2 linked regions of the Homo sapiens genome follow. The protein of the gene in region 1 purifies or fractionates together with the protein of each later gene. This does not show direct contact. Each region holds a gene or a part of one and is shown in the gene's direction. Other genes may lie near its edges. The genes, in order: FOLH1 and GLG1.

What was found.
Region 2: the proteins of FOLH1 (region 1) and GLG1 purify together in Homo sapiens (affinity purification with mass spectrometry; one large-scale study listed by BioGRID and IntAct). This does not show direct contact.

Annotation. Positions count from the first base shown.
Region 1 is NC_000011.10:49,146,820-49,149,655, reverse strand, and holds part of FOLH1 (glutamate carboxypeptidase 2), read left to right. Parts: intron 1-924; coding exon 925-1,017; intron 1,018-2,710; coding exon 2,711-2,836. UniProt on the Homo sapiens protein: Has both folate hydrolase and N-acetylated-alpha-linked-acidic dipeptidase (NAALADase) activity. Has a preference for tri-alpha-glutamate peptides. In the intestine, required for the uptake of folate.
Region 2 is NC_000016.10:74,492,032-74,495,862, reverse strand, and holds part of GLG1 (Golgi apparatus protein 1 isoform 3 precursor), read left to right. Parts: intron 1-1,031; coding exon 1,032-1,103; intron 1,104-2,722; coding exon 2,723-2,906; intron 2,907-3,831. UniProt on the Homo sapiens protein: Binds fibroblast growth factor and E-selectin (cell-adhesion lectin on endothelial cells mediating the binding of neutrophils).

The DNA of each region.
Region 1 (2,836 bases):
TACAAGCTTGAATCTGAGAAACTCAGATGTAGCTAATGAAAAACTAATGAAAAATATAAAGTAAGAGAATTATAGAAACTTAAAAAAAAACTGTTACATTCCATTTGGACTACTAGCCATGTGTTCCACAAACATTTTCTATTTTATATAATTGCCTATCTCATTGTCTTAACAACATGAAGACTAAGATGTGAAAGGGGGATTAAGCATGTGGTAAGAGTTATACTGGGGGCAGCTAACCCAAGGGAGATCAGATGTGGCTTCAGATTCCACATACACAGCTACATTTCCTCACTGAGGCAGAGCAAGTTAATCCAGAAAGTCATATCAGGCTCCAAGAACGCTGTACTTAAACCATTCTGAAAATCACTTGAAACGATATAATTTTAAGTAACTTTTAGACTTAAATCTGGATCATTATACCGAGAGATCAATTTAATTTGTTTGGTAGTTTGTTCATTTTCACCCTGTTAATTCCACAGAGGACTCGTCATTTACATTAGGTATACCTCCCAATGCTATCCTTCCCCCCTCACCCCACCCCACGACAGGCCCTGGTGTGTGATGTTCCCCACCCTGTGTCCAAGTGTTCTCATTGTTCAATTCCCACCTATGAGTGAGATAACGGGTGCAGCACACCAACATGGCACATGTATACATGTGTAACAAACCTGCACGTTGTGCACATGTACCCTCGAACTTAAAAGTATAATAATAAAAAAAAATTCCACAAAGGAGGAGGGCCGACTTTTCACATACATGTGTCCTCCTTGCAGGACTTGAGTATGCACAAATTTTGGTGTAGAGGGTGGTCCTGAAACCAATCCCCGGAGATAACTAAATTCAGTTTTGTTCTGAAATTTTTATTTTCTGAGTAGAAACATATTTTCATGAAGTTATAATTATATTCATTTTCTTTCTCAGCCCAATAGTATTAAGAATGATGAATGATCAACTCATGTTTCTGGAAAGAGCATTTATTGATCCATTAGGGTTACCAGACAGGCCTTTTTATAGGTAAGAAAAGAAAATATGACTCCTTTCTGTAATATCACTTTTTCTTCTAATTATTTTTATTTTTTTCACTGTGGAAAAAATATTGTAGTTGATTTCTTGCAAGCAAATAGAAAATTTCAAAATATATGTAGTAAGTGATAGTTGTATTGTTTCTTCATATAATGTAATATGATTTTTGCATATCTTTATTTTGAGTATCTTTGTTCTGATTATAAAAGAATATAAATTTATTTTAGAAAATATAGAAGATCCAGAAAGCCATGACAAAAAATAAAAATCTCCCCAATTTTATCAGAAAAATATAAAATCATTGTTATATTCTGGTGTGTATAATTTTAGCTCCTTTTCTATTTTAAATATATTTTTACTTATGTATACACAGAACCCAAACATCTCTCTATATATAATGTATATAATAAATATATATTTATTTATTCTTTTCCCTAATGTTGATATTTAGATATTTTATTTCCTCCTAAATCCTGACAGTTGGATTTTTTTCTGCCAAACATTGACTGTCCCCAGGTTGATCTTCTAAATATTGCAGAATGAGATAGATCATTGGACAGCCAGAAATGGCCCTAACTTTCTTTCTAGGGATTATCAAAGGGTCGGGCTTGGGAGTAAGAGCATCTTCCAAGCAGGTTGACTGGATCAGATCACCAGTAGCAGCATATTTTTATCCATCCCCCACCCCCCCTTTTTTTCCTAAGAGACAGGGTCCCACTCTGTCTCCCAGGCTAGAGTTCAGTTGTGCAATTTTAGCTCACTGCAGCCTCAGACTTTTGGGCTCAACCAATCTTCCTGCAGCAGCCTCCAAAGAAGCTAGGACTACAGTCACATGCCACCATGCCCAGCTAATATTTGTACGTTCATTTGTAGCGACAGGGTGTCCCTATGTTGCGCAGGCTCGTCTAGAACTCCTGGCCTCAAGCAATCCTCCCACCTTGGCCTCCCTAATATATGGGATTACAGGCATGAGCTACTGCTTCTGGCCTTATTTACATCTTTACTATGGAGTTTGTCCTTCTCTTCTGTGGGCTATTACATGAACTGTCATAGCCCATTCTATAAAACATTTTCTGCCTTGGTCACATGGAACATTACAAAATTGTTTTTGATGATTCTTCAAACTCTATATTAAGTATTCTAACATGGTAGTGTGACTTTTTAAAAAAAGACAAAAAAAAAACCACAATAGAGGGTTGGCTGATCACAAGCAAGACTGTAATGATTACAATTGTGCTATAATATAGGGGGTAGCATGATATATTAAAAAATCAGCAGTTACTTGTCGTGTGCCTTGAGACAAATCATTTAGTTACTTGATCTCTCAGACCTCAGTTTCCTTCTCTGTGAAATACTAATATCAACTGTGTAGAGTTTATTTCTAAACATCAGAAAAATTGCAAGTAAACATTAAATACCAAGAATGATTGCTGTGGTTACTATCATCATTGTTAGTTTTGTAGCACTGAACCACTTTAATTTATTTGTTTGAAATAAAAATATAATTAATTACTATAGATTTCATATAATAGTCTTCAGAGATGATTGAACTTGGAAGTTCAGTTGACAAGTGGCTTGTTCAAATTGTTATAGGAATATGCAATCCAGGAATTGCAGAGTGCTCTTGTGTTTCTCTTGTATATCATTTGGGCACCTAATAAACAGCAAACGATTTTATCAACAGGCATGTCATCTATGCTCCAAGCAGCCACAACAAGTATGCAGGGGAGTCATTCCCAGGAATTTATGATGCTCTGTTTGATATTGAAAGCAAAGTGGACCCTTCCAAGGCCTGGGGAGAAGTGAAGAG
Region 2 (3,831 bases), on another chromosome or scaffold:
CAACCTTGATGACTGAACATTTGGTTAACAGCTGGCTTCTAATGATCTCCACTTAGTATTTTTTCTGCTTTATCTCACTTCTCAATTTCAGTTCTTGGAAGTCTGTTTTATCTATAGGAATTTTATTTTACCCAGGATCTTATTTACATCTATTCAATGGCTAAAACTTTGACGCATTATATATTTATGTGTTTTTGGCTAAGGTGAAGAAAACAGCAGGTGGCTAATCTTTAAAACCAAATCCTTGATTACCACCTGCTGACTCTACAGAACAGCCTTCTAAGTCTTTAAATAGAATGGTCTCTCCATCCTTACAACAAAGTACTGAAAGTAACTTGTGTACACTTCCACTCTGCCTGCTGGTTTGCATTAACAGCTTTAACCATCAGAGCCACTGATGTAAGAGTTTCGTTAACTCTAGCATACACTTGTAAGAAAGAAGACTCAGAGGCTGGGTGCGGCGGCTCACGCCTGTAATCCCAGCACTTTGGGAGGCCGAGGCAGGCAGATCACTTGAGGTCAGGAGTTCGAGACCAGCCTGACCAATATGGTGAAACCCCATCTCTACTAAAAATAAAAAAATTAGTTGGGCAGGGTGGCGGGGGCCTGTAATCCCAGCTACTTGGGGCTCTGAGGCAGGAGAATTGCTTGAACCCAGGAGGCAGAGGTTGCACCGAGCTAAGATTGTGCCACTGCACTCCAGCCTGGGCAACAGAGCAAGACTGACTCTATCTCAAAAAAAAAAAAAAAAAAAAAGACTCAGACTCTAACACTTCTCTTGGTTCCCTAATTAACAAAATACATCTGAGAACAAATGACAAACTCCAAATATCATGGGAATATTTTTTTCGTCTTTACTGCAGTCACTGTTTTTGTTAAAAGCCTATTAAATTTTATAAATGGAAGCGCTGTTTGTCCAAAGGTATGTACGATTATAATCGTTTAATAGAAAGCTCTATATGAGATTGTGGATAATGTTCAGCATAACTATTTAGCTAAAGTAATAATAATGTGTATGTTCCATCTTATAGACACAAGCTGGTGAGGGCAGAGTGTATAAGTGCCTCTTTAACCATAAATTTGAAGAATCCATGAGTGAAAAGGTAAGTATTATTTTGAAACTAATGAATGTTTTATTTGTTTTTTAAAAGCTTTCTCAGCCAGACACGGTGGCTCACGCCTGTAATCCCAGCACTTTGGGAGGCTGAGGCAGGTGGATCACGAGGTCAGGAGTTCAAGACCAGCCTGGCCAAGATGGTGAAACGCCGTCTCTACTAAAAATACAAAAATTAGTCGGCCGTGGTGGTGGGCGCCTGTAATCCCAGCTACTCGGGAGGCTGAAGCAGGAAAATCACTTGAACCCAGGAGGTGGAGGTTGCAGTGAGCTGAGATCGCACCACTGCACTCCAGCCTGGGTGACAGAGTGAGACTCTGTCTCAAAAAAAAAAAAAAAAAAAAAGCTTTCTCAATTTCTCTGAAACAATATTTCTTATAATCTTATACCGAAACGTAAATGACTGATAAAGCTCACCGCTTTCAGAGGTGAGGTACTTGGGTTTTAAGCATATTTGGCTGAAACCAAGAAAATGAAACCCTGATTGTGATATCTAGATAGTGAGAAGCCAAGTAGGGTTCTCACTGTGGTGGTTTTTTTAGGTGTTTTTGTTTTGTTTTGTTTTTGTTTTTTTTTGAGTGGAGTCTTTCTCTGTCACCCAGGCTGGGGTGCAGTGGCATGATTCGGCTCACTGTAGCCTCTGCCTGCCGGGTTCAAGCAAGTCTCCTGCCTCAGCCTCCCTAGTAGCTATGACTACAGGCACCTGACAACACGCCCAGCTAATTTTTGTATTTTTAGTAGAGACGGGGTTTCACCATGTTGGCCAAGCTGCTCTCAAACTCCTGACCTCAGGTGATCCACCCGCCTCTCACTGTGGTTTTATATAAAATCCTCAGTGTGATTTTATATAAAATTCTCAGATATTACTTTGTTTGGGGAGTAAAATCAGAGAATTTTATATAAAACCACACTAAGGCCAGCCCTGCCTCCTCAAGAAGTTTAGGTTAACCAAATCAATGTGCTTTCTAGGCAATTAGCTATTTAATTTTTCAGCAGCTATATCATTAAGCATCCTCTTTTAGTTCTTTGTCCCTGAATGAATGCAAGAATAGTTGATGGCTTTTGAAATAATTAATTTTGCTATCTTGTCATTTACTTTCCTGTGTAGCTGAAGAAATGTTTCTCATTTCCTTTTTCTTGTATCATTTGAACAATCTTATTCAAATCTTATTATTCAGATGATATAGAATAATTGAATAATTGTATTTTAAAGCATTGAACAGAATATCCCAAATGTTATGTTAGTTGCCAGTTTGATGCTAGTGAAATTTATGTTCGGGGTATTGTTAAAGTGGAAAAGAATGCTGTGTGTCAAGTTAACATATTGGGATCTGTGAGATATTTACATGTTTTGGATAGCTGCTATTGCAGCAACAACTAGCAAGTGACTACAGAATTTCTAGGTTCCCCACCCACTTACCCCTGTCTCATGCCACACTAGTTTAGCTCAATTGTGAACATTTTAACCAAACTTAAAGATAGATATGTTGGTAATAACTGCAGTTGTTGACATGTACTTGGCTGAGTCGCTGTGCTCATCTTAGTGGTACACGTCAACAGTAAAGTTACATGAGTGGTCTCACGGCTGTTGCTGTACTCTTTCCTCAGTGTCGAGAAGCACTTACAACCCGCCAAAAGCTGATTGCCCAGGATTATAAAGTCAGTTATTCATTGGCCAAATCCTGTAAAAGTGACTTGAAGAAATACCGGTGCAATGTGGAAAACCTTCCGCGATCGCGTGAAGCCAGGCTCTCCTACTTGTTAATGTGCCTGGAGTCAGCTGTACACAGAGGTAGCATTCATATTTTTTTTTTAATTATCATTTCTGTTCCTTTTTGGATTCACACTCTAAAGCTTTATATATATAAACGTTAGTTTCCTCCCATATTTGCTTCTTTGAGTATTTTTCTTTTTTTTTTTTTTTTCTTGAGACGGAGTCTCTCGCTCTGTCGCCCAGGCTGGAGGGCAGTGGCGCAATCTCGGCTCACTGCAAGCTCCGCCTTCCGTGTTCACGCCATTCTCCTGCCTCAGCCTCCCAAGTAGCTGGGATTACAGGCGAGTGCCACTGCGCCTGGCTAATTCTTGTATTTTTAGTAGAGATGGGGTTTCACCATGTTGGTCAGGCTGGTCTCGAACTCCCAAACTTAGGTGATCCGCCCACCTTGGCCTCTCAAAGTGCTTGGATTATAGGTGTGAGCCACCGCACCTAGCAATTTTTTTTTTTTTTTAATAGAGATGAGGTTTTGCCACGTTGGCATCCCGGGTCTCAAAACTCCTGCCCTCACGTGATCCTCCCACCTTAGCTCCCAGAGTGCTAGGATTACAGGCGTGAGCCACTGTGCCCAGCTGAATAGTTTTCTTGTCTTTTCTTTTTTTTTTTTTTGAGACAGAGTCTCGCTTTGTCACCAGGCTGTAGTGCAGTGGCACAATCTCAGCTCACTGCTACCTCCGACTCCCTAGTTCAGCCTCTGGAATAGCTTGGATTACAGGCACGCACCACTATGCCCAGCTAATTTTTGTATTTTTAGTAGAGATGGGATTTCACCATGTTGGCCATGATAGTCTCGATCTCCTGACCTCGTGATCTGCCTGCCTCGGCCTCCCAAAGTGCTGGGATTACAGGCGTGAGCCACTGCGCCTGGCCTAGTTTTCATTTTTGAAATACACATTGTGCAACATTTTGAGGAGACTCAGGGTAGCATGATTTAGCACATGGG